Linked DNA regions of Homo sapiens. The protein of the gene in region 1 interacts with the protein of each later gene in a pairwise test. Each region holds a gene or a part of one and is shown on either strand. Other genes may lie near its edges. The genes, in order: NECAB3 and LRP8.

What was found.
Region 2: the proteins of NECAB3 (region 1) and LRP8 interact in binary tests that used the Homo sapiens proteins (3 or more experiments, as listed by UniProt).

Annotation. Positions count from the first base shown.
Region 1 is NC_000020.11:33,659,343-33,672,752, reverse strand, and holds part of NECAB3 (N-terminal EF-hand calcium-binding protein 3), read left to right. Parts: intron 1-330; coding exon 331-355; intron 356-1,960; coding exon 1,961-2,069; intron 2,070-3,040; coding exon 3,041-3,066; intron 3,067-3,280; coding exon 3,281-3,378; intron 3,379-4,227; exon of another isoform or gene 4,228-4,517; coding exon of another isoform or gene 4,518-5,255; exon of another isoform or gene 5,256-5,810; intron 5,811-8,844; exon of another isoform or gene 8,845-8,885; coding exon of another isoform or gene 8,886-9,221; exon of another isoform or gene 9,222-10,281; coding exon of another isoform or gene 10,282-10,407; exon of another isoform or gene 10,408-10,541; intron 10,542-10,571; exon of another isoform or gene 10,572-10,631; intron 10,632-12,357; coding exon 12,358-12,494; intron 12,495-12,718; coding exon of another isoform or gene 12,719-12,749; coding exon 12,750-12,868; intron 12,869-13,020; coding exon 13,021-13,256; intron 13,257-13,410. Other genes in the region: ACTL10 (actin-like protein 10), read right to left, coding at 4,518-5,255; uncharacterized protein C20orf144, read right to left, coding at 8,886-9,221, 10,282-10,407. UniProt on the Homo sapiens protein: Inhibits the interaction of APBA2 with amyloid-beta precursor protein (APP), and hence allows formation of amyloid-beta.
Region 2 is NC_000001.11:53,250,165-53,266,792, reverse strand, and holds part of LRP8 (low-density lipoprotein receptor-related protein 8 isoform 1 precursor), read left to right. Parts: intron 1-145; coding exon 146-320; intron 321-779; exon of another isoform or gene 780-1,041; intron 1,042-2,396; coding exon 2,397-2,624; intron 2,625-4,228; coding exon 4,229-4,347; intron 4,348-4,585; coding exon 4,586-4,725; intron 4,726-6,187; coding exon 6,188-6,329; intron 6,330-8,321; coding exon 8,322-8,474; intron 8,475-9,328; coding exon 9,329-9,553; intron 9,554-10,311; exon of another isoform or gene 10,312-10,665; intron 10,666-11,537; exon of another isoform or gene 11,538-11,607; coding exon 11,608-11,676; exon of another isoform or gene 11,677-11,696; intron 11,697-12,065; exon of another isoform or gene 12,066-15,901; intron 15,902-15,930; coding exon 15,931-16,103; intron 16,104-16,628. UniProt on the Homo sapiens protein: Cell surface receptor for Reelin (RELN) and apolipoprotein E (apoE)-containing ligands. LRP8 participates in transmitting the extracellular Reelin signal to intracellular signaling processes, by binding to DAB1 on its cytoplasmic tail.

The DNA.
Region 1 (13,410 bases):
GCCAGGGGCTGATGTATCAGATAGAACTTGGGCTGCACTCTGGGTGTGGGAGGTGGGGACGCAGGGGACTGGCCAGGAGCACCCCCCACGAGGCCAGGCCCTGCAGGAGAAGTGAGCAGAGGTGGCACCCGCTGCGTGCTCTTCCTGTGCCCCGCTTGCAGGAAAAGCTCCTGCAGGGCTGAGCTGGGCAGGTGGTTTGGGACCAGGCTGGGCGGGAGGAAAGGCGAGGCAGGGGGTAGGTCGGCCAGCTGGGACCCTGTCGGGTTGAGTGGGGGCCTCTGGCTTCCCAGGTGGCACTCACAGTTCTCTCTATGTCCCTTTGTCCTCTAGGTTTTCCGCAGAGCAGACAAGAATGGTGAGTGTGGCTTCCCCTGGGTCCCACAGTGGGGCAGGGTGGGAGGCATCCAGGAGGCCCAGGGAGAGTTGGGAGGTTGGGTGGGAAGTCAAGAGTTGAGACAAATCTTGGGGGCCCAAAACAGGAGAATCAATCAAGGCACTTCCCAGAGGAAGTGCTGTTCTCAGCCAAGTTTGGCAGGATGGAGAGTGGAGAGAATGTGGTTTGGCCACGGACTGGAGATAGGGGCTGACTTTCACACAGCACCCTGGCATGGTGATGGGCACTTCCTGTACGTGGCCCTCTGTTGTCCTCACAACCACCAGCTAGATTGGAATTCACCCTATTTCATAAAGGAGCAGAGGGCCAGAGAGGTGAAGCAAGTTGCCTAAGGTCACACAGCCTTTAATTGATAGGCTCGAACTTGGGTCTTTGCAGCATTTAATCCCAGGCTCCTTGTGTGAGGCACTTGGAAGAGTGAGGTAATGGAGATGAGGCCTTTTTGGAGATTTTACTCAGGTTTTTAGAGGGCTCAGTAACTTGTCATGTGACCAACCATCTGGACCAGGGAGGTCTTGGAGGACACAACTAAACCCACGCCTTGGGCAAGGATAAAGCTGGGTCCAGTGCCAAAGGAGTCGGCTCCTCCTGCCTTGGGTCCTGGGCAGTCTCAGACCCTGGTCTGGGAGAAACTTGGAAGCTAAAGCAGGAGCCCTAGGGGACCCATCCAGCAACAGGCTGCTCCCCCTAGATGACTTGGAGCAGCCCACTGTGCCCTGTGTGGCCCGTGGAGGGTCTGAGCTTCGCAGTCAGCCTGGGGCTCCTTTCATCTGGGTCTTCACGCCCTCTTGTGTTTCATCCTCCTAGAGACGGGGTCCTGTCCCCACTCTTTGCCCCTTCTCCTTGGGTCTCTTCAAATTGATGGGGATTGTTTGTCCCAACCCATTGATCAGGACACATGCTCTCACTTGGACCAGGGAGTTCTGTCTGGGGAGGTTCAGATCCTCCCCCGGGTCAGCTCCCCGCACCCATCTGCTCAGAGACCTCACACATCATTCAGGCCAAATCCCATGTCTTTGTCCCACATAAGTACTCCCAGCCTCTGCTTACATGCCCCTGTGATGGGGAGCTCATTCCCTTCTGAGCCAGCCTGCTGCTGCCTACAGAGGCTCCAACTAGTAGGAGGATTCCATCTGCCTCCCCGTGGCTTCTCTGTGAAGGTCCTGGGTCCAGAGAATGGAGGTTCCTTGTGCCCTGCAGTGAGGCTGGTCCCCAAGTCCTTCCAGGTGACATCTAGGCCCTGCCACAATGTGGCCGTGTCCCAGCCTGTTGCTTGTTTTTTCACTTGGCAAACATTTACTGAGTTCCTACCCAACGCTATGTACATACTGCCCTGTCCCTTTGGTGCCTGCAAAGTAGGTTCTGTTGCCTTCACTGGACACCTTCAAGGACCCCAGTCCTTTTGTCCCCAACAGTCAGGCCCCCCACTGACCTCAGACTCCCATCTCACCTAGCTAGATGGTTGTCAGATGCTATGAGGCCTTTGGGACCCTGGACCTGGTGGCAGGGGTGCAGTCAGGGTCAGGGATACCTCCTCTGCTCCCTGTCCTCCCCCTGCCACCCCAGATGATGGGAAGCTCTCATTTGAGGAATTCCAGAATTACTTTGCCGATGGGGTTCTCAGCCTGGGGGAGCTGCAGGAACTGTTCAGCGGCATTGATGGGCATCTCACCGAGTGAGTATGAGAGGGGGCCGTGGGTAGATGCGAGGCCAGGTTGTCTTTACCCCACTGTGTCCCCTGCTGCCTTGGTTCCTTTTGTAGGATGAGGAAGAGGGGGCAGGGAGAAAGGTACCAGGGCTCAGTTCCAACTTTACCCGCCTGCCTACCCCCTCTCCAGCTACAGCCTTGCCCACTACACTGCTTCCAGCTGGGACCCCAAAATAGCCAAGTCTGAGTCACCACCCATGGCTCAGCTCCCCATTCCCGCTTCCCACAGGGACCAGAGGATGCCTGGGGACAGCTGGGCCCCGCCTGCTTCCACCCGAGAATGCAGTGCATAAACACGCAACCATCTACCCCTTGTGTGCTCCCACATCTACGCGTCTTGGCAGGAGTGTGCACGCTCCTTCCCGTGCCTGCTCCCAGGGGTGCACACGCATGAACCGCTGTTACTCCCTCTACTTCCCTTCTCCCCTTTCCTGAGGGTCAGTCTCAGGCTCCTGAGACTTGGGCTGGAACCTTCATCTGCAGTGCTTCCCCTCCCCTCCTGGCCAGACTCCCCACCCAGTTCCTTGTCCTTCAGGGCCTCACTTAGGCAGCTCTTCCTCTAGGAAACCCTCCCTAACCTACAACTAAATACCCCATGCCGTCCCTGGACTTCATTGCCTTGCACCTGGCTTCCCCTTCGCAGCTCTGACCACTTCTCACTGGCCTGTGTCCACATCCATCTTCCCCTGGCCTGAGATCCTCTTGGTAGCCAAGAATGGGTCTGAATCTTTGCCCTTAGAGTGATTGGTGGGGGCAGTAGAACCCATTCTCCAACCCTGCAAGGACTCTGTCCACAGGAGCAACTTAATCTGGGGTGGAGCAGAAGTGGCCTTGTTAGGCTAAGCTGGGAGTTGGTGGGGTGGGATGTGGGGCATTGGCCCCATTAGTCCCAGTTTACCAGGCCCAGGTCTGAAGGGCGCCTTCTCTTTTCCCTGCAGCAATTTAGAAACAGAAAAACTGTGTGGTGAGTAGGCCCATGGGAGCTCTTTTCTCCTGTGGCCCCTGGGCCCCAGGGTACGTGTGGCAAGGGACTGTTGCTGGTCTCCTGATGGGACAGGTTGGGCTGGGCTCAGGATATAAGGCCTGCTTGGCTGCTGAGGAATTCCAGGGGGCCAGAATCCCAGGGTGGGTAGATGGGTGGGGGTCCAGGAACCCTTGAGCACCTCTTCTGCCTGCAGACTACTTCTCAGAGCACCTGGGTGTCTACCGGCCGGTGCTGGCTGCATTGGAATCGCTGAACCGTGCAGTGCTCGCTGCCATGGATGCCACCAAGCTGGTGAGTGGAGTGGCTGATGGTGGGGGATCCACTGTGAGGCAGTGGGCATCTGCTGTGCTGTGGGATCCTCCACAGTCTTGACTCAGGGTTATAGAGCTAGGGGCTTGGGTTCAAATCCTGGCTCCCACTTTGTAGCTGTGCCCCTTGACCTCTCTGGGCCTGTTTCCTCATCTGTAAACCATCATAACAATAGAGCTGCCCTTCATACATCACTGTGACCAGTGAGAACGAAGGCAGGGATTTTTGTCTGTTTTATTCTGTTTCCAGCACCCAGAATAATGTCTGGCATACACTGGGTGCTTCATACTAGGGGCTGCTGTTGCTTTAGTTGCTGGCCCATCACAACTGTGGTGGGATATCATTCAGGGCTGGGCTAGGCGTGGAAGGCTGTGCTCACAGGTTCACAGGGCAGGGCCTGGCCCGAGGACATACGTGAGTAGGCAGGTACGTGAACACCCACGCGTTTGTGTGGACACGTGTATACACAAGCTCGAACAGTGCTGATAGCCAGGGCTTGAGGCCCTTGAGTGGTGACTTCCAAAAAATAAGCTGCCCTTCCCTTTGTGTGTTCAAGAAATATCTCCACCTCCCTTTGCTCCATAGCTCTTGTAAGGGGGAGGGAGCAGTGAGCAGGCCCGGGATTGTGCCTGACCCCACTTTTTACAGAAGGGGAAACTGAGGCACTCATAGTCAACAATGACCTGAGCACATGGCTAGGCACAGGGCTCCTCCTCCTGGTGACTTTCACATGAGATTTAGTAGCTTTTCAAGGGATCGCCCCTTGGGGCCTGGCATCGGATGTATGTCCAAATGGTACATGACGAGGGTTTGGAGGAACTCCCATATCTGTGGCATGGACACAAGTGGGGCATCACCTTTATTGCCATAAAGTAGGGCCCTGTGGGTAGGCAGCTGGACTGGCATTCTCTGAACTGGCAGTGGTTGGGGAGATTCAAACTGCAGTTCAAAATGAGGGTCCCATGGGTCCCAAATACCTTCTCCTGGCCCAGAAAGGGTATGGGGGTGACCCATCCAGTCAGCTCCAACCTCCAGGAGGACCCTGCCAGCTCCAAACACTTGACTCTTTAGATAGAGAGCTGTCCCCCAACGCAGTGCCACCCCCCCCAGTCCAGCCTGACTCAGTTGAACACATCGTACAGCAGCCTGGAGCCACACTCCTGGTACATGGCCCGAGTTATCCAGCGGCGCTGGAAGGAGTGCAGGGAGGCCACCATGGAGCCGCCGGTCCACACAGCCATGCCACGCCCATGCTTGGCCACCAGGTGGGGCCGCAGGGCCGCGTAGCCGTGCCGCCGGCACTGCGCCTCCAGCTCCTTGTCCAGGCGCTCGGCGAAGCCAGGAAACAGTGTGGAGCCGCCGGCTAGCACCACGGTGTCTGCCAGGCGTGTCCGCAGCGTTTTGGGCATCTTCTGCAGCGCCCGGAAGGCCAGCGCGGGCAGCCCCTGCTCAGCCTGGCCCAGCAGGCCCGGCTGGAAGATGGGTTCGGGGCAGCGGAAGCGCTCACTGCTGAGGCAGACGCAGCACCCGTTACCCACGCTGAAACTGGCCGGATGGTGGCGGGCGGGGTCGCGGAGGTCGCCCTCGAAGTCCAGGGACACGTAGCAGCTGCGCTTCTTGAGATGTGTGATGGCCTTGCGGGGCAGGGCCTGCTGCAAGAGGTCAGGGTTCGCCGCCACCAGCAGATCCCGCAGGTAGCGCGACAGGGTGCTGCCTGCCACGTTCAGTCGGAAGGTGGCCTGGTGCCACGAGTGACCCGCGTAGATGGGCGTGGCGTGGCACACGCCCGCGCCCGCCTCCACGGCCAGCCCGCTGAACGCGCCGGTGGAGCAGAGCGCCAGCAACGCGGTGCTAGCCATGTGGCACGCGGGCACTGCCAGGGTCTCGAACAGCAGCTCCGCCACCCTTTCGCGGCCCGCGGGCGGCGCCAACGGCGAGTCGCTCACCAGCACGGGCCACTGCTCTGGGCACACCCGCAGGCCGCCCACCAGCAGGCGCTCCCACAGCCCTTCCAGCGCCTCCCAGTCCGCCACCACGCCGTGCTTGATGGGGTGCGCCCGCGCCACGCCGCCCGCCAGCTCGCAGCCCGGCGCTCCGGGCAGCACCGGCCGGTCCCAGCTGGGCACCAAGCTAGAGCTCTTCAGCACTATGCGCGGCTGGTTCTCGCCCGCGAAGCCCGCCTTGGTGAAGCCCGAGCCCTGGTCCACCACCACCGCGATGCGGCCCAGGGAGGACGGCCGGTGCACGCGGCGGCTCCCCGACACCGACGCCACCTTCGGGCTCGGCCCAGCCGCGGGGCTGAAGGCTCCGCTCCTCCGCGCCACTCGGCTTCGTCGGCCCGATACCTCCCGGCCTCTGTCCTAGGGAGTAGTCCCCTTCAGCCTTTGGCTCTGCCTCCGGAGCCTAAGTTCTTCCTCTTCTGGACCAAATCACCACCCTTTTCAGCTCTTGGCTCCGCCCTCTGGTCTGAAAGCCCCGCCTCTTCTGTCCGGGCCATCCGCCTCCTTTTCAGCTCGTGGCTAGTTCCTAGGCCTGAGGCCCGGCCCCTAGTTCAGGCTTCAGTCTCCGCTCTGGCTGGGTTCCAGCCGCATCTCACCCTCTTGGTCTCCCTCTGGCGCCGGGCTTCAGGCTCCACGCTCTCAGGACCCGCCTCTGCTTTGCTGTTCCGCCCCGTCAGCCCTTGCTGAGATGGCTGACGAGATGGCTAGGACTGATCCTTTTAGATCCTAAGAAGCCCCCGGGAGGAGCAGAACTTTGAGGGCGAAGGGGCCTTGTGGTAAGGCCATTTGGACATATATCCCCCTTGAGGACCCAGGCAGCCTCCTGGCACCTCTCACCTGGGCTTGACGGAAGTTCCTGGTTGTGGAGAGGGGAGGGGCTGGTCAGAAGGCAGAAAAGAACTTGGATTGGGCTCATTGTGACCTCACTCCCCAGCAGCTGCACTTCGCAGCTCCCTACCTTATGACAACTCCCTGGACCCATCCTCTCTTCTGGACAGAGCCAAGGGCAGTGATTTTGGCATCCAGGGGTCTGGCTTCAGCAGCCCAGCACAGTCTGATTCCTTTCCCAAACCACTTAGAATTATCTGATGTACTCTGTCCAGATGTGTGGCCCCCTACCCCTCCCAGTGCTGAAGAAAAAGCTTTTTCATCACAGATCTGCAGCTTCCCTGAAGAGCCCCCGAGAGGCTCTGGCCCTACCTTTATGGGCTTCCACGGATGGATTCACGTGGGCCTCAGTTTGAGACTCAGTTCTTTTTTTTATTATTATTATTTTTGAGACGGAGTCTCGGTCACCCAGGCTGGGCGTGCAGCGTTGCAATCTCAGCTCAGTGCAACCTCTGCCTTCCGAGTTCAAGTGATTCTCCTGCCTCAGCCTCCTGAGTAGCTGGGACTACAGGCATGCACCACCATACGCGGCTAATTTTTGTATTTTTAGTGGAGACAGGGTTTCGCCACGTTGGCCAGGCTGGTCTCGAACTCCTGACCTCAGGTGATCCACCTGCCTTGGACTCCCAAAGTGCTAGGATTACAGGTGTGAGCCACCGCACCCAGCAAGACTCAGTTCTGAAGCTGACTCACTGTGCAGTCCTAAGCAAGTCTTGATCTTTCTCTGGGTTCGGTTTTCTCCTCCAAAAGGTAGTAATAATCCCCCCACACAGGAAAGAGGTCACTTCTTGTCTCTGCAAAGCCTCATCCTCCTGAGGACCAGTTTGGTTGCAGGTAGAAGACTCAGGTGAATGTAACCCAAAATAAGGACTTTATTGAAAGGATCTTACATGTTATGGATATCAAGAGCAAGGGTGAAATCAGGTTTCAGGAACAGAATCTGACTGCGGGGCTGTGGGGAACCCAGGATGTGCACTGCATTGTGTTGTTTGTTTTTTGAGATGGAGTCTCGCTCTCTTGCCCAGGCTGGAGTGCAGTGGTGTGATCTCAGCTCACTGCAACCTCTGCCTCCTGGGTTCAATTCCCCTGCCTTAGTCTCCCGAGTAGCTGGGACTACAGGCGCCCGCCATGATGCCTGGCTAGTTTTTTGTATTTTTAGTAGAGACGGGGTTTCACCGTGTTAGCCAGGATGGTCTCGATCTCCTGACCTCGTGATCTGCCTGCCTCAGCCTCCCAAAGTGCTGGGTTTACAGGCGTGATCCACTGCGCTTGGCCTGCATTGTGTTTTTATTCTGAAGGCTGGCTTAGCCTGTGCATGTTCAAGTAGAGAACATGGTCTCTTACAGCTCCTGAATCACAGTCCTAGGGGGAGGGGCTGACAGGACCAGCTTGGGCCAATCACTGTATGGGCAGGAGGTGCAGCCCCATGGAAGAACATGGTTACCCTGATTGTAACCATGTGGATGGTAGGGAAGAGTCAGTTCTCACAATTAGCAGGAGTGATGTTATAGCTCTTGCAGCCTCCAGCCTGGTGCAGGCAAGGTGGAGGAGATGTTCATCCTGGTGGCGGTGACAAAAGTGCATCTTCAGCAGAAGCTGGGCTGATGGCTGTAGTGAGCTGGGACTTCAGTCCTGCTGCATCTGCCCCCAAAAGAGGGCATCCTGAGGTTGGTCACCAGAGTGTGGCAGGAAGGCGGGCTGCAGGTTTGGCAGGCCAGGGGTGGCATTGGGTGTGGAGCTGGATTTGGGACCCGGGAGAGTGAGGAGAAGCAGCAGCAGGATCCCGCCCACAGAAAGTGTGGCAGGGCTTCTTCTAAGTGATTTGGGGAGTGAGACTGAAGCTGTGGGCTTTTTCCCTGTTGGTAATGGAGACCTGTTGAAAGCTTATGAGCAGGGGAGTGAGCTGCCCTAGACAGGTAAGTGGTTTGGAATTAGTCTTTGTCACGTGGGGAAGGAGATGGGACAGGGTAGGTTGGGAGACAGGTGCCTTGGGGAAGACTGGGGGGCCTGAATGCTTTGGGGTTACCAAGCACAATGTGTAGGAGTGAGGGGCCAGAGAGAGGCCCAGGGCTTCCAGCTTCTCCTGGGTGCGTCCCCAGGCAGAATCCACGTCTCAGGCCTTGCCCCAGCTGACTGCCATCCTGGCTGTTCTTACCCAGGATGGTGCCTGTTGGCCGGGAACCCTCCCTCATGCCTAAGAGGGATTTCTGGATGCTGGGGGGATGTCAGGCTTTACCGGAAGCAGGTCCCTCTCACTAGCGTGGCCAAGCCTGGGTTTGCCCAAGCCCACCTCCCTTGAGCCTGCAGACTGGGCAGGATGTGACCTGGATTTGGAGTGTTGGGGGAAGGAAACTGCCTCCCGCCACTGTAGCAAGGTTTGGGGTTCTGTTCTGACCCTTGGCACAAGGAAGGAGAAAGCAAAAGACAGCCCTGGCTCCAGACCGTGGCGATGGCTCTGCCTTCATCACGCCCCGTTCACCCCTCTGCGGCTCCTAGGCTGAGCTTTGCCCACCCCGACTCCGCGCCCAGACGCCTCCGACAGGGTTCGCAGGCGCCAGGGTTGCCACGCACTCTTTATTGGGCGGGGTCCGGGCCAAGCGTTTAAAGCTGCGGGCGAGGGCAGCGGCACCGTTTGCGCGGCTGCTCCTCGGCGGGGCCGGCTTCGCGGGGAGCCTTCCCCGGGGACCGGAAGCGCGAGAGCAGCCGCGGCCAGCTCAGAGCTGCCCTGGCCCCGCCCTCTTCCGGCCGCCGCGCCTCTTGCCGCCGCAGCAGCAGCAGTACCGGCATCCTCGGCTCGCGCTCGCTACCTTCGCCCGCTCCGCGCAATCTGGGTGCCGCCGGGGAGCCCAGCCCAGCGCCGGACGCGTAGTCAATCCGTTGCCCAGCGTTGGCCAGCGGCTGCCGCTTGTCCAGGGGGAGAATCAGCACGATCCTGGTCTGGGGGTGGAACAGGGGCGTGAGGCGGGAGAGCGCGCTAGGGCCGAGCCCACGACCCGGGGCCGCTCCGCGCTTCTCCTGGGACCCTCGTCCACCCGGGTCCTGTCGTCCACCCGGGTCCTGTCATCCTCTCGTGCACAGGGCTGGAGGGGACCCCTGTCCAATTCAGGCCGCGGGGAAGCCCGCCCTTCCCTGCGTGGCGCCCCGGACTCCGCCTCCTTTCTGGAAACCCTCATCCATCCCAGGCTGACTTCCTGAGACCAGCTCCGTCTAAGTTTATGAGATCCCTTCCAGGCCCTATGTCAGGGGCTTTCAGCACCTCCCACCCCCGCCTGGTCCAGGGCTTCTGCTCATTTGAGAGGGAGACAGGGAAGTTCTGAGCCTAGGAGCTGAAGAGAGGACACTAGGGAATTCCCCCTGCCTCTAGCTCCAGTAGTACCAACTAGAACTGATTCTCCGTGTTGGGATCTCCACCCGTTCGTCCAGGGTTGGGAGAGAATCCCACTCATGCTCACCCCCCGGGGCTCTCAAGTCTCATCCACTTTCTGGTTCTGGAATCTCTGCCCTCCCTTCTGGGCTTTTTTTGTTTAAGACTGAGTCAAACAGGGTCTTGCTGTGTCCTACAGGCTGGAGCAGTGGTGCTGTCAACGGCTCACTGCATCCCTGACCTCCTGGGCTCACGTAGTCCACCTCAGTCTTCTGAGTAGCTGGGACTGCGGGCATTCACCACCACAACCAGCTAAGTTTTAATTTTTGTAGAGATGGGGCCTCCCTATGTTGCCCAGGCCAATCTCAAACTCCTGGGCTGAAGTTATCCACCCACCTTGGCCTACCAACGTGTTGGGATTACAGGCGTGAGCCACCTTGAAAGGACCCCCATCCACACCCATATGGGCTCCTGGGATCCTCATCCTTGGGAGAGATTTTCGAATTCCTCCCTCACCCCCTAGGACTTCTGCATACAAGGCCTAGACTCCCAGCATCCCTTCCCACCCACTTGTCCAGCTTTCTCTGCCCCCCAGCTGCCTCCCCAGCCCTGCTCCCCATCCCCCGCCCTCACAGCCGGCTTCTTCCGAGTGAGGTGGTTGAGGAACGATTTCCACCAGGCCTTGTCCATGTCAGCCGGCCTCTCCTTGCGGGCCTGCTTGGGTGCTTTGGTCCTTTTGTGGGAACTATAGTTTCCCATGGCAGGGCTGGTCACCACTGGGGACGATGGCCCACACTCCGTCTGCTCTGCCCCCTGGGCCCTGGCAACATTGTGACCTCACGGGCTGACCTCACCAATTGCAGGCTCTGAGCACCGCCTTCCAGGGCCCACAGGTGAATCTGGGCTCCACTCAGTCACTTCTAGCCTTGGTTTCTCAGCTGTAAAACTGGGCTAATGATCATAAATGAGGCAATGCATGTAAGGTGCTTAGTGGTGAATAGAGGGGGATTTCTGTGGTTTGGGTATGAATTTTGGCCCTGCTACTAACTTGCTATGTGACCTTAGCCCAGGTAATCAACCTCTCTGGACCTGTTTTCTCATCTGCAAAATGGGGTCAATTATGGTTCCTGTAAATTGTTACAAAGGTTAAATGAGGCCTGGCATGGTGGCTAATGCCTGTAGTCTCAGTACTTTGGGAGGCCGAGGCGGGTGGATCACCTGAGGTCAGGAGTTCGAGTCCAGCCTGGGCAACATAGTGAAACCCCGTCTCTACTAAAAATACAAACATTAGCCAGGTGTGGTGGCACAGGCCTGTAAACCTAGCTATTCAAGAGGCTGAGGCAGGAGAATTGCTTGAAGCTGGGAGGCAGAGGTTGCGGTGAGCCAAGATCATGCCGCTTCACTCCAGCCTGGGTGATACAGTGAGACTCTGTCTCAGAAAAACAAAAGACTAAATGAAATTCTTCTTGCAGTAGTGCTTGGCTCTGAGTGGGTGCTTCTGTCTGTTCTCTGGTTGAAAGCAACAGAAACTAATCATCTCAAATACCCAAAAAGGAATTTTTTGGGAAGATTTCATGGAGATAGAAACCCTGGCCTGTCTGAGAATGAAAAGACCCAGCCTCTTCTCTGTCCCTGTCTCCTAGCTCATAAGCCTGGCCCAGGAGGTCCCATCCGATGGCTGAGCTGAGGCAGGTCATGGCAGGAGATGAAGTCTCTGATGGATGGGGCTTCTGGAGTCTCCTCGGAGAGGGCAGGCACCTGGACTGCAGCTCCCCAGGACTCCCACCCTGATGCGTGTGTGTGTGTGTGGTAGGGGTTAGGCAATTCTCAGGACATCTGTGACTCCTGGGTGTACAAGTGGGCAGGCCCTTTATTGTATTACACTTGACGATAGATGGCTGGTAGGTCTGGCATCGAGAGCTTACGTGCCAGACCCTGGGCTGAGTCCTATGCAGGAATTAACTCCTGGGACGTTCTTGCAGCTCCATGTGCTGAGTTTCATCTTTCCTGTTTGATAGATGAGGAAATGGAAGCTCCAGGAACTGACGGTTGTTGAGGAGCCTCAGAATCCCATGCTGGGCCATGCAGGGCCTAGCATTTGGGCAGCCTCCCTGCCTCTCTGCCACCCTGAGAGGGGCTGGGAGGAGGCTGGCAGTGTCGGTTGGGGTCAGTGCCGGCGTGTGTGTCTGAGTGAGAATGGCAACCTGATTGTCTTTTATCAGCAGCTCCTAGTAAAAAGCACCCAGTGTTGTGTGTATGAGTGAATGAATGAATGAGTGAATACGTAGATTGTGAGTCTGGGGCCACACCACGCCATTATTTTGCCTTGTGTCAACATTGGCCCTTGGATACCTCGTGATAGCCCCCACCCAGCCTAGCTGTGGCTGGGACTCACTGGCTATGACAGTGCTGAAGGTGGTAGCCCCATCAGGGAAGGGGCCATGAGGTCCAGAGAGGCCAGGCACTTCGCTGGGCAGATGCCCCCTGTGAGTTGGCCTCACACCTCCGGGGAGGGAGGCCAGTCCCGGACAAGGAGGGATCCAGACCCTCCCTGCCCATCAGGTCTCAGTACCCTCCTGCCTGTGCCAGGTTTGCGTGCCCCTGCTCTTGGCACTGCCACCGCTGCTCTGATGGGCAAGAGGCAGGGGACCCACTCAAGAGATCAGTGCCCGGGCTGGGAGATGCTGACCGTCCCTCCTTGGCCCACAGGAGTACGAGAGGGCCTCCAAAGTGGACCAGTTTGTGACGCGCTTCCTGCTGCGGGAGACGGTGAGCCAGCTGCAAGCCCTTCAGAGCTCGCTGGAGGGGGCGTCAGATACCCTGGAGGCCCAGGCCCATGGCTGGCGGTATGTAAGGGTGCTGTCAACCTGTGGGGCTAGTGCACAAGCGCCCATTGTACCCCCATTCCAAATCCCCACAGTCCCAGCATCCTGGAGCCTGCATTTTCGGGCGGGGAAGCCATGGCAGGGTAGCCATGGCGGGGTGAAATGAGACTGGCTTTGGGGCTAGGCCTCGGAGTCCCAGGAGGCTTGTCTTCCCCACCCAGGCTTATCCCGTCCTGGGGCCCCAGTCCTCGGCCCTGTGAGCCTCACTTCCTCTAGGTCAGATGCAGAGAGCGTGGAGGCGCAGAGCAGGCTCTGCGGCAGCCGGCGGGCAGGACGCCGAGCCCTGAGGAGTGTCAGCCGGTCATCCACCTGGTCCCCCGGCTCTTCTGACACAGGTGCGCCTGGGGTGGGGTGGGAGGCCTGGCCGAGGCAGGCACCGCATCCCCCCTTCCCCCAGGGCCCGCTCCTTCACTGCCCCTCACTTCATTCTGAGCACCTGCGGGACCTGAGAGGCCCCTGCCTGACCCTGCACGGGCCCCACACACAGGGCGCAGCTCAGAGGCCGAGATGCAGTGGCGGCTCCAGGTGAACCGCCTCCAGGAGCTCATCGACCAGCTCGAGTGCAAGGTGAGGGCCGTGGGGCCAGGGCCCCACAAGGGAGGACCCTCCTGGTATCCACCAGAGCCAGGCCCATGCTGGAGGCCCGGCCCACACTCTGTGCCCTCACAGGCCCCCCGGCTGGAACCCCTGCGTGAAGAGGACCTGGCCAAGGGGCCTGACTTGGTGAGCCCAGGAGAGGGGCAAGCGGCTGGATGGCCGTGTCTGGGGGTGCTCATGAATTGGGGATTCATGGGGCCGGTTGCCCACCAACCCTCTGCAGTGCGCATGTGCCCCGCCCCCAGGCCTGGCAAGCAGGTGCCGGGTTCTGAGAACCTGC
Region 2 (16,628 bases), on another chromosome or scaffold:
CTCCTGCAACCTGTAAAGTAGGAATTGTCACTACTATTTTAAGGAAAATGGATGTGTCAGCCAGCAAGCCAGTGGCAGAGTCTTGGTCTCCAGGCTCCCTGCCTCTTGCACTGACTCTTTCTCTTTCAACCTCCCTGCATGACAGCTGGCAAGAGCCCATCCCTAATCTTCACCAACCGGCACGAGGTGCGGAGGATCGACCTGGTGAAGCGGAACTATTCACGCCTCATCCCCATGCTCAAGAATGTCGTGGCACTAGATGTGGAAGTTGCCACCAATCGCATCTACTGGTGTGACCTCTCCTACCGTAAGATCTATAGGTGAGCGGCCATATCCTCTGCAGCAAGGCATGAAGAGTGGGGGTGAGGGGTGGTGACAGGTGAGGAGGGGAGGAGTGGTGTCTGCCTCTAGAGCTCCTCAGGACAGAGTTGGGACTTGGGAAGAGATGCAGGATCACAGTGGATATGGAACTTCTGGGACTTTACTGGGGCTGGAGTAGTCTGAGGGCTCCCTTGGGTTAGCAGCTTTGAGCCCCAAACACCTGGGATTTGTCTGACCTCTGGAGGCCTAATATGGAAGCACAAGACACAGGAACTGTTTGGCCAGGGCAGAAAGGAAGAAATCCTGGCTTTGGGGAGGACTTTCCAAGCAGCTCACATCCCTGTGTGTTGGAACCTGGGGACTTAGACCTGGTCCCTGCCCAGAGGATCCCACTCACAACACAGTGACATCCATTTGTGATGATCATGAGAAAGTACAGAGGAGGCCTCCGAACCCACCTGGGCATCTGATCTGGCATGCCTTCCTGGATGGCATCACCCCAAGGCCAGCTTTTCACTGTCTTTGACGCCACAGTCAGTGGACCTGGTGCTTGGGAAGCTCTTCACACACTGGAGGAGGTTCTCTCCTAGGACTTTCTCAGATGCCAGCACCTGCCCCACTGCATGTCTGGGCCCTCTTCAGGCAGTCATGTCCTTTCTTTGTCCTGAGATCCACTTGGCAGGAATGCCGATGACCAGGCGCTGGGTAGACACTGAGTCACTGATGAAAGAATGATGGGACAGATGGGTGGAAGAGTGGATGGAAGCAAATATAGCAAGTGCTACTCACTGACAACTAGATTCCTGCCTCCCTGCAACATACAGACACTCCGTTCACACACACCCAAAAACATAACTAGAACAATGCCTGTCCAAGAGATGTAACTGAAAGAGGCAGGATTTGGTGACAGACTAGATATGGGGCTGATGGAAGAAATTTACTCCTTCATAGTGAATTTTGGGAGTTTCAGGTTTTTGGCTTGGGAGGTTTCATGAATGGTGGTGCTGTTCTCTGATGTGTGAAGCAGTAGAGGAGGATCAGGGCTCAGGGTTTGGGCCGTCTGGTTGGCCGAGGGGAAGGGAATGGGGATGAACAGTTTTGGACATATTGAGTTCAAGGTGTCCATGGGACATCCAAGGGGAGCTAGTTAGCTTTGCAGTCTGGATCGTAAGAGAGCTGTTGGGATTGGAGACTTAGTTATTGATGGCAGTGGACACTAAGGAACTAATCACCCAGAGAGAGGGCAAGAAGAAGAAAACCTCTGGGGAAACAGCATTTGCTATTTTGCTAATGTTGCCTCCTGAGTGTCTACTGTATTCTTAGCCCTTCTTTCCATTCTCACTGGCACGGTCATTCTTCAGACTCTCTTAATCTCCCACCCAGATGCTGTAACGTCCTCCTAACCAGTTTCCCTGCTTCATTCCCTCTCCTTCCAACCCATCCACTCCATAGATGCCACAGTGAACTAACATGCTTATTGGACTATATCCTCTGGCCTGTCTAGTTATCACTGGGGAGAAATCCTAATTCCTTGGCGTGGTACTCAAAGCCCATCAAGATGGGGTTCCTGCCTACACCTGCTTGCAGTCTGACACCCACATAAGCAGCTCCCCTAAGTATCTCACTGTTCCAGAGCAGACTCACCTCTGGCCATTTGCACAAGCCTTTCTTGTTCCCTAATGGCTTTCTGTCCTGGTGACTTCATGCTCCTGGTGAACTCGTCCTTCAGGACTCAACTATAAAGCCTTCTCCCGCCCTCTCGGATGAGGCAGTCTCCATGCCTCTGCTGCCATAGCCTCTAATGCTTTCCATAATCACATTGTATTATATCTGGCTCACCCTAATGGGCAGAGCTGTGGAGCAGCCCCACCTTAGAAAGCCAGAGACCGTGGCCCATGTAAGTCTGTACCCCTACCCTGGTACCCCAGGGAATGTGTAGAGTGGAAATTATCCACGTTCCTCTAAAAATCTATTGCCATGGCCCAGATGGAAGAGAGGGGAAGGGTGCACAGGTAGCTCCAGATGGGCCCATGGGTGGAACATCTGCCCCATGGTCATCTCTGTTTTCTCTTAAGCGCCTACATGGACAAGGCCAGTGACCCGAAAGAGCAGGAGGTCCTCATTGACGAGCAGTTGCACTCTCCAGAGGGCCTGGCAGTGGACTGGGTCCACAAGCACATCTACTGGACTGACTCGGGCAATAAGACCATCTCAGTGGCCACAGTTGATGGTGGCCGCCGACGCACTCTCTTCAGCCGTAACCTCAGTGAACCCCGGGCCATCGCTGTTGACCCCCTGCGAGGGTGAGTGTCCCAACTGAACTTCCCATTCTCCCACCATAGGTGCTCAGTCCTCTTGTGTCTGTCACAAGGGCTATCTTGAGGGTTCTAGAAAGCTCTGGGCCACTCAGACACAGGCCATGGGGAAGAAAGTCTTGTTAATCCCCAACCAAGGTTCTCTGGGCATTGGTCACCAAAGTTCTCCCTGGACTCTCCCACCCACTCGTTATATCGTAGAATTGGAGTGTCTCAGAGCAGAGTAGGGCTCTAGAGATGGCCTGATAGAAGCTCCTGGGGGAGGAAGCCTTTCTTCAGGCTGCTGTAGGTGAGCATCTGACAGCTGCTCACATACTTCCAAAGACAGGTAGCTCATTACCTCCCATAGGGCCTGTTTCACCGTGGGGCAGCTCTGCTCATTAGAAAGTGGGTCTTTTCCCCTCATAATGCCAAATCTATCTCCCTGCAACTTCCTCCATTGGCCTCTGGAGTTACATAAAACATGTCTATTCCCTGCCCTGTGAGAGAGCCAGCAAGATTTGAGGACCAAGATCACTGGTCTGTTCTGCTTCAGACTGCCTGCCTCCATCCCTACCCCTGTTGCCTATGGTCTCTGGGCCCTCACCACCTAGGTTGCCCTGCTCTGGCCACCCCTCAGTTTTGGGAGTTAGGGATTCTGAACAGAACAGGACTCCCTCTCTCCCTCAGTGTGGATATCTTGAGATGGTTTTTTTAGCGTTATATCATGTTAAGTTTAACAGAATCAACAGCTGCTTCCTACTGCTATTTCCTTGTTAAACAGGGATAAGAAAACCCTCTTCTTCGAGCAAGGGCAGCTGGTGAGGGGAGTACCACATGGGAGGTTATGTGAGGCCTTGGGAAGTGACTGATAGCTGCCATTCACTAAGCATGGGTCAGGTGCTTCCAGCACAGAACTAGGCACTCTGACAGATACGGAGCCTCTCCTCTTACCCTCACTTCATCCCTGTTCTCTGTCTGTTCTCATGCAGACCTTGTGTTGCACCTGCCACATCCTGTCCCTCACATCATAGAGTTACACCCAGCCCAACCCCAATCCACTGCGGATCGTCAGGGTCCCAGGAGGAAACCCACTGCATACTCAAGATAATCAGAGGAGGGTTTAATAAAGGGACTATTTACAAAGGAGTGGGTTAGGTCTAATTTACTACCTTGGATTAGTAACAGTGGGCTGCTACTGGCCCTAGTAGGCCTGAGGAGACAAAAGCAGGGAGGGTTACCTGAGTTAGGAAGCTCATCCACTTTCTCCTCTGAAACCAGAAAAGAGAGGGCTTACTAGGGCCTTCCCCACACTGACACCCTAGGGCTCTAGTTAGTTAGCACTGCCAGAAGTGGGAGAGATGGGGTCACAGGCTATTCAGCTGAGTCTGGGTGCAATCTCGGAGAATAGTTTTCCTCAAGTTCTCAAATGAGGTGAAGGCTAAAGTGCCTGCTAAATCTAAGATTTGATGGTTCAAAAGAACTTTAGAGGTCTTCTCAGTCCCTACTAAACATAAACCACAACTAGTCAATGGGTTATTGAGCTCTTGTGACTCAGACCACCCCGGTCATGTCCCCAGCAAGAAGGCAAATTGGGTTATTTTGTCTTTTAGGTTCATGTATTGGTCTGACTGGGGGGACCAGGCCAAGATTGAGAAATCTGGGCTCAACGGTGTGGACCGGCAAACACTGGTGTCAGACAATATTGAATGGCCCAACGGAATCACCCTGGGTGAGCCCTGCCTTTCCTGGGTTGGGGGCCTATTCTAGTGCCTTGTCCTGATCACTGTCTGGAACTCCATGAGTCTTGTTTCTGGGTCCTCTCATGGTGCCAGTGACTTTGTTTCCTAATGGTTGCCGTAGGCTGGCCTCAGTGTGAGGCCTAGAAATGTGGGCAGGGAGAGGTACAAAGGAACAGAGCTCCAGACTGGGGTCCCAGGTTCATGACCTGATCCTGCTTCCTTCCCAAGATCTGCTGAGCCAGCGCTTGTACTGGGTAGACTCCAAGCTACACCAACTGTCCAGCATTGACTTCAGTGGAGGCAACAGAAAGACGCTGATCTCCTCCACTGACTTCCTGAGCCACCCTTTTGGGATAGCTGTGTTTGAGGTGAGTCCTGTAAGGAGAGGCAAGGGCCCACTAGGAAGCTGAAGCCTAGAAAATGCTTGTTCAAATAGGATGAGTCCCTGAGACTTGTTCAAATGAAAACAGGAACAGGGAAACCAACTGATTTGTTTGTAAACAATCTGTGAGCTGCCTGCACACAAAGGCTCTGCAGCCCACTCTCCACCTGGCAGCCTTTCCCACGCTCTCTTCCCAAGACCCCTCTCCCAGAGCACTTCTCACAGGTGAGCTGCTAGGCATGTATGTTTCCTCTCTGTGCCCTCAGCACCCAGCACTGTAACCCATATACAAAAGGCACCCAGTAAAGGGAGGAAAGGAAGAAGGAACATACATATCCTTAGAATCATTTACTGGAGGAAATGGCCTGAGAGATGCTGTTCAATTCTGCACACTTTTATTGACCTCTGCCAGACCCTGGGGTCATAGAAGTGAATCAGACACTATCCTAGTCTCAAGAAGCTCCCAGCAAAGTGAGGAGCGAAGACCCTCCTGTGCCCTGACCCTAATGACTTTTCTTCTCCGGGAATGAAGAAGCCAGAACCAACCAAGGTCTCACACCTTCACCTCTTCCCGAAAACTAACTCCACCACCAAGGGGAGGGAAAGCAAAGGGATGATGGTCTGTGGTGGGCATTGGCAGGATTTGCTTGCAGCAAAGTTACTCAGCACTGCTCTGAAGTTGTGGGCAAAGCTCCACCTCTAAGTCCAGCCCCTGCTTTAAAGGACAGGTGTGTTGGTACACAAGTGTTTGTGCTTGTTTATATACATGGCATGTACATGTAAAGTATGTGTATGTGCATGGGTAAATATAAATGCATCAGAATAAAAGTGTGCATTCCTCTAAGTGCTGGTGCTTATGTGTGTACATACATATACCAAGATGTATATAGACTGCATATTTAGGGGCAAATGTAGCTTTTTGTGTGTGGATGAACATTTGGGTATGTGTTTAGATCTGTGTATGAGGATGCACAGTTGTACCTGTACGTGTGGATTTGCTGACAGATGCACATCTAGGCTTATATGGACTAACCATGTGGACTCGTGTGGATACCCAGAGGCTACAGGAAGCCCAGCAAGGCATAACCCTCATAGCTCACACATTCCTTCCAATCTTGGTCCCAGGCCCCAGTAATGATAATGCTATAGAGATTTAACCTTGGGTTTCTGCTGGGCTCTAGCAAGCAGGCTTAGTTCAGCATGAATGAGTAATGTTGTGGCTGTCAGTTCAAAGCACAGAATCACTGAATAATCCTCTAAGATAGAAGGGAACAAGGAGACGTGCATCACAGATTAGAGGCTGAGAGCCCCACCGTGAATCCATAGACAGGACAGATCAGGGGAGATTTCAGGGAAGTTCTTGTGACTATGGTTTGGGGCCAACCCCTCAGACTGAGGTCATGGATTTACACTCCAGGCCTCCCATCCTCTGCATCTATACCCCACAGGACAAGGTGTTCTGGACAGACCTGGAGAACGAGGCCATTTTCAGTGCAAATCGGCTCAATGGCCTGGAAATCTCCATCCTGGCTGAGAACCTCAACAACCCACATGACATTGTCATCTTCCATGAGCTGAAGCAGCCAAGAGGTGAGCTGTCTCTGGTCCTAGGTCCCAGGTCCCCTGACTGTGTCACTGTGTCCTCTCCTTTCACCAGGCAGGCTGTGTTCACATTCAGGTCACAACTCAGCAACCCCAGGAATAATAACAACAATCCCTCTTGTTGGTAGAGTACTTTTTCATCATATATTTTGTCTCATTTTACCTCAAGTTCTTTGTGAAATAAGGCTGGGTATAAATGAATACATAACTGTCCTGTTTTTGCCAATCCTACAAAGTGTGGGTATTACTCTTCTAACAGTTGAGGAAACGGAAGCTCAGAGAGGTAAAATAATGTTAGCAGGTGGCAGAACTGAAACCTAAACCCAGGTCTATCTGGTTCCACAGCTGCTTTCACCATGACACACTGCATCTAACTTGCTATTTGTAGCCATTCTGCAGTAGTATAAGCTAATGTATCCGAGGGCCATATAATAAGTCAGCTTATTGGTTGGGAATAGAATCTAGGAATCCTACTACTAGGTTGTCCCCTCCTCTATCACTAGGATACATTAATTCTAACTGTAACTGAAGTGTTGGCTGCCAGGGTGAAAGAGGGAGAGCAAGGGAGTGTAAGGAGCTAAGATTGGTGCCTGATTCTAGACCTAGAAATTTAAATGAGAGACATAGTATGTGGCACAGGGAAAAATAAAAACCGCGGGCTTATGGGCTTTGGAGCCCAGCCGACCTCAATTTAAGTTCTATCTCTAGTCCAGACATGGTGGCTCATGCCTGTAATCCCAACACTGAGAGGCTGAGGCAGGAGGATCCCTTGAGCACAGGAGCTCCAGGCAGCAGTGGGCTATGATTGCATTACTGCACTCCAGCCTGGGCGACAGAGCAAGACCCCTACCTCTTAAAAAAAAAAAAAATTCCTAGAGTATAGGTTTGACGAATTTGTTCTCTTTGAGCCTAGGTGTCTTTATTTGTCAGTCTGGGATGTAACGTCCCCACCTCTCAGAATTGTTGCAAGGATTAAATGAGAGTGTAGGGATAAAACACTAGGTATGGTGCTGGAAAGTACCCAATAAAAGTAGTAGGGAGGCCAGGCATGGTGGCTTATACCTGCAATTCCAGCACTTTGGGAGGCCAACGCAGGAGGATCACTTGAGCCCAGGAGTTTGGGACCAGCCTGGGCAAGAAGGCAAGACTCTATCACTACAAAAACTATAAAAATGACCCTTGTATGGTGGCATGCGCCTATAGTTCCAGCTACTCGGGAGGCCGAGGTGGGAGGATTTCTTAAGCCCAGGAGTTTGAGGCTGCAGTGAGCTATGATTGCACTGCTGCACTTAGTCTAGGCAACAGAGTGAGACCCTGTCTCAAAACATAAAACATAAAAAAAATTGAAAAAGTAGAAGGGCTTCACAATTGCAGAGATGTGGAACCAACCTAAGTGTCCATCAACTAATGAGTGAATAAAGAAAGTGTGGCATATATACACCTTGGAATACTACTCAGCCATAAAAAGGAACAAAATAATGTATTTTGCAGCAACTTGGATGGAGCTGGAAGCCATTATTCTAAGTAAAGTATGATAGTAGTGGAAAACCAAAAACTATATGCTCTCACTTATAAGCAGGAGCTAAGCTATGAGTACACAGGGGCATACAGAGTATAGCTAAGCTATGAGTACACAGGGGCATATAATGGACTTTAGAGACTAAAAATGGAGAAGGTAATAGCGGGGCTAGAGATTTAAAAAAAAAAAAATTACACATTAGGTACAATGTACACTACACTTGGGTTACAGGTGCGCTAAAGTACCAGAATTCACCACTATATAATTCATCCATGTAACAAAAAACGTGTATCCCAAAAGCTTTGGGGGATAAAAAAAGAAAGAAAAAGAAAAAAAATGTGAAAAAAAAAGTATAGGGCAAGCTTTTTGAGCAAGCCAGGTGGGAGAAGCCTCATCCTCAGGAGGCAGGAAGACCTGGCATGTCCTGTCTGTGCCCCAGCTGTCTCCCTCTCTGCCATTAGCTCCAGATGCCTGTGAGCTGAGTGTCCAGCCTAATGGAGGCTGTGAATACCTGTGCCTTCCTGCTCCTCAGATCTCCAGCCACTCTCCCAAGTACACATGTGCCTGTCCTGACACAATGTGGCTGGGTCCAGACATGAAGAGGTGCTACCGAGGTAAGCAGACCTTCCAGGAGGGATGGCCCCTGGCAGTGTCAGACCCTACCCTGCTGAAATCTTCCCTTGGCTTCTGGGACACAGTATGCTGCTGGTTTTCTTCCATCTTCCCTGGTTACTTGTTGCCTTTTGGGGGTTTCTCTTTTTTACCTTCCTTGAATGCTCATGCCCCCAGGATCCTTCCAAAGCTTTTTCTCACTCCCAAGGAAAAAATGCACATATACATAAAACATTTTAAATTCAGTTTCAGGGAGTTTCTGGAACGCTTTAAAAACCTCAAGTTAAGAACCCTTAATCGCCGTGGCTTCAGGTACATGCAGATAACTATATATTTGCCTGTTTCTCACCTAGAACTTAACAAACACTACACAGCAGCCCTTTTGCAATATAATTGGGACTAATAGTTAATACTTCAACCGCATACACAGATTCATGTCCTAATCTTGATGTATAGCCAAGGCCTTTCATTTGAGCCTAAGTCTACTGCATTATTAATGATTTACAGGTTCAATTGTTTAAAGTGGAATAAGAATTTCAATCTATTGGTATAACAATATATGAGTGTAAAATCCTTCTAGATTTATCTGATTTCCCCTCCCTACAGTCTTTTTATTGCTGATCTTACAACTAATTCCACAGCAATGTTTTAATGACTCATCTTTATTGAATCAAAGTGAAGTGCTTAGCATTCAGCTAAAGAAAAGATCATAGCCCACTGGGGAGATTAGGAAAGGCTTCACAGAAGTGGCATTTGAGCTACGCCATGAAGATAAGTTCCTAAGTATATCTCAGAGGCAATACCTTAGGCAACAAAATTATCTGTCCAAGTGACCTCCATGGTATTTCCCCTCCAGCACCTCAATCTACCTCAACTACGACGTTAGCTTCTACCATGACGAGGACAGTACCTGCCACCACAAGAGCCCCCGGGACCACCGTCCACAGATCCACCTACCAGAACCACAGCACAGAGACACCAAGCCTGACAGCTGCAGTCCCAAGCTCAGTTAGTGTCCCCAGGGCTCCCAGCATCAGCCCGTCTACCCTAAGCCCTGCAACCAGCAACCACTCCCAGCACTGTAAGGAAATGAGTTCTGCATTCTTTCATGACATGGGAGGGCTCCTAGGGAAGCCAGGAAGGGGGTATGTGATAAGACAGAACCTACCAGAGCTGAATACTGCATATCTTTGAGGAGGTTACTGCATATCTGAGAGGGAGGTAGAGTACCAGCCTGCGATTTAGGACTCATAGGTGCCCCTACCTTACAGAGGGTCTTGTAGGAAGCTGAGACCCTGTGAGCCTCAGTTGCTTCTCTTACAAAGTGGAAATAACCACCCTTCCACAACCTGCTTCACAAGATTGCCATGATAGACAAAGGTGTAACCGGTATAACTGGAGGTGCTCACGCACACAGCCGTTGCTGACTCTGCGAGGGTGTGTGTGTCTATGTTTCACAAAGTTCTGATGTGTATATGAGGAGGTGTCCCTTGTGTTTGGAAAGCTCTGATCTCAGTTCACAGCAGGTCCCCAGATAGTAATATCTACAACCATGGTCTCCTTATACCTCTTTCCAACCCTGGGATGAAAATAATTAAGTTCACCACTTATTAAATCATTGGGAGCAGTAATTGTCACTGCTAGAAATGTTCTATCTCATTAATCAGCAAATACCTTTTTAATTGAGTTACCTGCCAGAGGGAGTTCATTTAAAAGGATAAACTATCTTTTTAATTTTTTCCCCTACATGGACAGCCCAGAAACCAAGCTGCTTGGCAACATCTTCCTAACTGGTCCTATTTGCCAGCAGAAGCTGGCTTTTTGGAGTGGAGCACTTACTCCGAAGTTTGCAGAGGCAGATGGAGCATGTGTGAATTCCAGTTCCTCTCATCTGAGGGCAGAGCCTCTCACCAGCTTCTCCTCACTGGCTTCCTCATGCTCTAGGTTTTAATATCACTGTCCAGTGTTCGCTGTGGCCCAGAGCAGGGAGGACAGCAGGGAGGACACAGTTAGCTCTGGAAGCAAGCAGTGCAGCTTTTTCTCCCCTTAACTGTTAGATTCTCTTGGAGTAACATGGATAAACAGTCACATTGAGAGAGGATGGGCCTTGGGCCATTGCCGGGACAGTCATCTCACCTGCAGCAAGTGTAGATGATAGCTCCTTTTCACACCACAGGGAGCTGTCAGGAGGATCTAAGGGAAAAATGCTTTCTGAACTATAAAGTGCTTCACAAATGTTACAATGAAGATGGTTATAAGAGTGAGAAAGATGGCATGGCATAGTTTTTCAAAAAGACAGTAAATTTTCCAAGCACTTTTCAGTTTAAAATGTGCTTTTACATATCTTTTTAAAATTTAGACCCTATTCAACAACCCCATCCCACTCTCCACCCTCTTAGAACTAGGCAAAGTTGTGCCAAGCATTTTATATTCATTTTAGATAAATTATTTCATTTAATCCTTACCATATCCCTAGGAGGTAGGTAATATCACCATTTTAAAGATATAAAAGTATAATACCATGTGCTGTATTTATAATATATAATAATTTGCCCAAGGTCACATGGGTAGTGAGTAGTAGAGCTGGGACTTGAACCCAGAAGTCTGACACAGAAGTCTGCGCTTTTGATTCCTCTACACTATACTATGTCCCATTTCAATTACTTATGAAAAATAATCTGATAATGCAGATGGACAGACAGTTCACAAAAAACAATACTGGCAAAGCAACAGATACTGATGGAAAAAGGCAAATGACCTAGTCCATCAGCAACATAAAGACCTAAGTGCTCACTTTGCCATGCACAGCCCCCAGCTTCCTACTACCATGATGCTATGGAAAGGGTATGGGACTTGGGACATGAGTCCTGGGTTCAAGTCCCAGCTCTGCCACTTTTCTGAAACCCCTCAGTTAAGACTCAGTTTCCTTGCCTGTAAAATGGAGATAACCTCTGTCCTGCTTGCCTCACAGGAGTTGTGATAGGATCTGGAAAGACTGAATTATTAGGCAACAGCCAGGATCATCATTTTAGAATGAGGATGAGCAGCAGTTGGGTAGTTCTTACCACTTGAGGCCAGTAGGGGCTTGGACACACAGTGATAGAGCATCATTCTGCAAATGTTTGTGTTTTGCAGATGCAAATGAAGACAGTAAGATGGGCTCAACAGTCACTGCCGCTGTTATCGGGATCATCGTGCCCATAGGTGAGTGTGGCCCCCAGTCACTGAAGAGAAAAGAGAGACCCTGCTTAGGCCTAGGGAAGAGCGCTAGCAGGGTAGAGAACTTGGCCTGCCCTATTGACTTGTTCTGCCCTTGCAGCCTTCCTGCCCACCTCCCAGTCCTGATTTAATTTGGTTTTTTAGCCTAGCACACAAGGCTCTTCAGGACCTGGCCCCAGGTGACCTTCCAGGTACATCCCCCATCTCCCCACCCCTCGATTCACACTCTACACTCCAGCTATGTGAAGTGCGACTGTATGATCCCTAGGAACAGGGCTGGTATCTCTTGCTCACCATTCTCCCCAGCTCCTGGCAATGTCTAGCACATGGTAGGATATCAAGGATTTGTTGAATTAATGAATAGAGCTGCTTACCATTCCTTTAATAGGTCATACTGTCTTGTTTTCTTTCTGTTTGGTTTTCAACAAGTATTTATTAAGCAGCTACTATGTGCCAAACTCTGATAAGGGGAGGAAAGGCAGTTAAAGATGAATAAGACATGGTTCTGTCCTACAAAAGTTTATAGTCTTGTTAGAGAGACCCACATAACACAGATAAGTTCATTACGACCTGGTAGGTCCTAAGGTTAAGCTGCATGCACTGACTTCAGAGACAGTGCTGAGGAAACACTTAACTTGGGCTGGGGGAGGGGGAAGAGGGAAGAGGAGGTTTCCTAACAGAAGTGATATTTGAGCTGGGTCAGCCAAGTGAGGGAGGATCAAGAACAGTCCAAGCAGTGAAGACAGCATGAGTAAAGCCAGGAGTAGGAAATGGCCTGGAAGGGTCAGGGTGGGGTGGGTTTAGAGCTAGAAGGAGATCAGTATGGCCAGAGTATAACACTTTGTTAAGACCTCACAGAGAATCATGGGGGCTGATTCATTCTCTTCCACCCTGATGACCACACGGTATCCTGTACACCCCTCTCTTAGCAGTCTCATCTCGTAGCAGTATCTTTGCATTCTGATTGTCCATTCAGAGCTTTATCTCCCTTACTTGGCTATGAGTACTTCAAGGACAGGAACTTTGTCCTTTTATCCTGGGAATCTTCAGTATGCCGAGTTAGTCAGCAAATGTTTTAAAAACTTCTCCCCTGTGTAAGACACTGACTGTGCCAAGTGCCAAGGATCCAGGGAAGAAAAAAATAAAGACTTTAAGAGCTTTCAGTCTTTAATCAGGCAAAAATAAAGTCCTTTAAGGTAGATGTTAATACATGTCATTATGTGCTATGATAGGGGCATGTTGGATATAGATAGAGACAGAGGAACAATGTAATAGTGGCATGATACTCTTGTGAAGGGATGGTAGAAGGAAAGGTAATTCCAGAGTAAAAGTGGCGCTTCTGGAGAAGACAGCATTTGAATTGGCCTTGAAAGGCTTCACCAGGAAAGATGATGGTGAGGTGATTATTCCAGGATTATTTTGATTGGAGTGGAGAAAGATAAATCTACCCCTTTCTTGCCATCCTTTGCCCTATAGAAAGAGGCAGATATATGCTGTTTTGCTGACATAACTCACTCTGAAATATTCAATATTTTTAATTTCTGCTAATCTGAGGAGTGAAAGATGAGTATTATTTCCCTGACATTTCCCTGTGAGGTAGAGTATATTTTCGTAAGCTTATCAGCCCCTTTACTTATATTTTATCTGTTATGAATCGCCCACTCACAGTCTTTTCTTATTTTTCTATTGGCTATCTTTTTCTTATTTATAGAAATATTTATACATGACAAATATTAAACCTTTAAAATATATGTTACAAATATTTTCTTCCAGTCTGACATTTGGTTTTAAAGTTTGTTTATGGTATCTTTTGCCATGCATAAATATGAAACTTTTAAGTATCAGATTTGTCAATCTTTTAAGATTTCTGGGTTTTGTGTCTTGCTTAAGAAGGCCAGCCTCACTCTAACTTATTAAAATATCTCCTGATGTTTTTCTTTTCTACTTTAAACTTTTTTTTAGTATTAGGATATTAATCTATTTGGAATTTAAATTTTAGAGTATCGTATGAGGTAGAGATTTAACTGTTTTTTTCTCTATATACCTGTCTAGTTTCCCCAAAACCATCATTGAATAATCCATACTTCTCTCCTGACTTGCACGTCATCTTTATTATAAACTACCTCCCATACGTACTTTGATTTGCGTCTAAGCAGTTTATTTTCCTTCACTGATTTATATATTCCTACATACTATTAGCACAACTTCATGATATGTTATGCTCACAACATCTTCTCAGCTATTTTTATTCAGTTTCTCTTCTAGGTGAACTTCAGAATAATCTTATCAATTCTATAAAAATTTTGGTGAAGTTTTTATCAAGATTGTTTTAGATATATGAGTTTATGTGAGGAGAATATACCTTTTTATTATATTAAAGCTTCCCATCCAGAAATGTGGCCTATTTATTTCAGTCTTCTTTTACGTCCCTCAGCAGAATTTTATAGATTACACAGGACTTGCGTATTTCTTCTTAGGTTTTCCTAGGTATTTTATAGCTTTTGATGGGCTATTACGAATGTATTTTTATTCCATTACTTTTTCTTTTTCTTTTTCTTTTTAAGAGACAAGAAGATCTTGCACTCTTGCCCAGGCTGGAGTGCAGTGGTGCGATCACAGTTCACTGCATCCTCGAACTCCTGGGCTCAAGGGATTCTCCTGCCTCAGCATCCCGAGTAGCTGGGACTACAGGCATGCACCACCACACCTGGCTAATTTTTTAAATTAATTTTTTTGTAAAGACCAGGGCTCACCATCTTGCCCGGGCTGGTCTTGAACTCCAGGGTTCAAGCAATCCTCCTGCCTCAGCCTCCCAAAATGTTGGTATTACATATGTGAGCCACTGTGCCTGGCCTCCGTTAAATTTTCTAATTGGTTGTTGCTGATTAAAAAGACGGCTAATGATCTTTTATGTTGATTCTTGATTAACTAAAATTATTTCTGATAGTTTTTCACCAGCTTCTCTTAAGAGTTTCTAAAAATACAAATAGCTGTTAATAACAGTTTGGTTTCCTCCTTTCTCATATGTATTTATTTATTTACTTTTTTTTTTTTTTTTTTGAGACAAGGTCTCACTCTGTTGCCCAGGCTGGAGTGCAGTGGCATGATTGTGGCTCACTGCAGCCTTGACCTCCCAGGCTCAAGCAATCCTCCCACCTCAGCCTTCTGAGTAGCTGGGACTACAGGTGCCCGCCACCATGCCCAACTACTTTGTATTTTTTGTAGAGATGGGTTTTCGCCATGTTGGCCAGGCTGGTCTCGAACTCCTGGCCTCAAGTAATCTGCCTGCCTCAGCCTCCCACAGTGTTGGGATTACAGGCGTGAGCCACCGCACCTGGGCTCCTTTCCCATATTTATACCCTTAAATTTTTTTCTGGCCTTACTGCATAGCTAGATCTCTAAGACAATAAATATTAGCAATGATAACTGCCTTGTTCCTGTCTTTAATGCTTATCAATTATTGTAATCTTACTAAAACAGAAACCCCTTCCATAGCATCCTAGATAGGTGATCATTCAGCCTCCACTGGGATGCTCAGAGTGACTGCTAATCACCTTACAAAGCTACTTGCTCCATTTTTACCCAGCTGTGTTGGAGAGAGCTTCCTCCTTTAATCATTAACATAGTCATTTATTCTAAATCAGAGCTTGTGTTGCCCTCTGTGTCTCCTTCTAGAGATGTTCTTCTTCAGGTGGAGCCTCACCTTTGGAAATAAACACTCTGCCTGGCCCCATCCCACTCTCCACCCCCCAGTTTTGGGAGAGAATCGTTTTCTTAGAGAAATCTAGGGAAGCAGCAGCATTAGGGCAAAGGTGTGGTAAAATTCACTCATTCATTCAGCACATGTTACTAGGCACCTAGTCAGTGCTAGGAACTGGGCGTAGAGAGTTTAAAAACAAAAAAAAGACACAGTCCCTGCCTTGAAAGAGCTATCTAGTTGGGAGTACAGATACATAAAGTAAGATACTGTGTGTGATCTGGGAGCACACATGAGAGAGCAACTGACTCTGCCCACAGTTGGGGAAGACTTCACATTTGAACAGGATCTTGAAGGATGAATAGTTAGTAAAGGAAAGAAGGGATGAGAGATGGGCTTTCAAACAGCAGTAAAAGAACATGCAGAAACAGAGCCTGAGGAGCAAAGGGTAGTAAAAGTGGAGTGGTGACAAGCCTTGTACAGATGTCTGAGCAGTGGGTTGGAGCCTGCTGGAGGTCCAGTGTCCTGTGTCCTTCCTCCAGTGGTGATAGCCCTCCTGTGCATGAGTGGATACCTGATCTGGAGAAACTGGAAGCGGAAGAACACCAAAAGCATGAATTTTGACAACCCAGTCTACAGGAAAACAACAGAAGAAGAAGACGAAGATGAGCTCCATATAGGGAGAACTGCTCAGATTGGCCATGTCTATCCTGCAGTAAGTATTTCTCACTGGGAGAATTCCTACCTTCCGACCATCTTCCCTTCCATCCTTTCTTCCCCTCCCATCCTTTCTTCCTTCCCATCCTTTCTTCCCTCCCTTCCTTCCTTCCGTCCTTCCCTCCCTCCTTTCCTTCCGTCCTTCCCTCCCTCCCTGTCTTTTTTCTTTCCTTCTTTCCTTCCTTTCCTCCCTCCTTCCCTTCCTCCTTCTTTCCTTCCTCAAACATTTATCAAAAACGCACCATGTATCAGGCACTGTTCTAGGCCCTGGGGAACACAGAAATGCTGGGGTAGGTGGTTAAGGTAAAAAGGTATCAGGACCACCTTGTACCTAGAGGCTCTTCCTGGCAGTAAAAAAAGCCAAATGTCTCTCTTTCTGCTCAGTAAATTTTCAGAACCTTTAGCCTGGAAGGGTAACTGTGGCCATTTAATTCAAATGTATTCATTTCAATACTGTATGCCAGTTATGTGCCAAGCACCACATTAGATATCAAGTATTCAAAAGTCAATAAGGAACATGCTT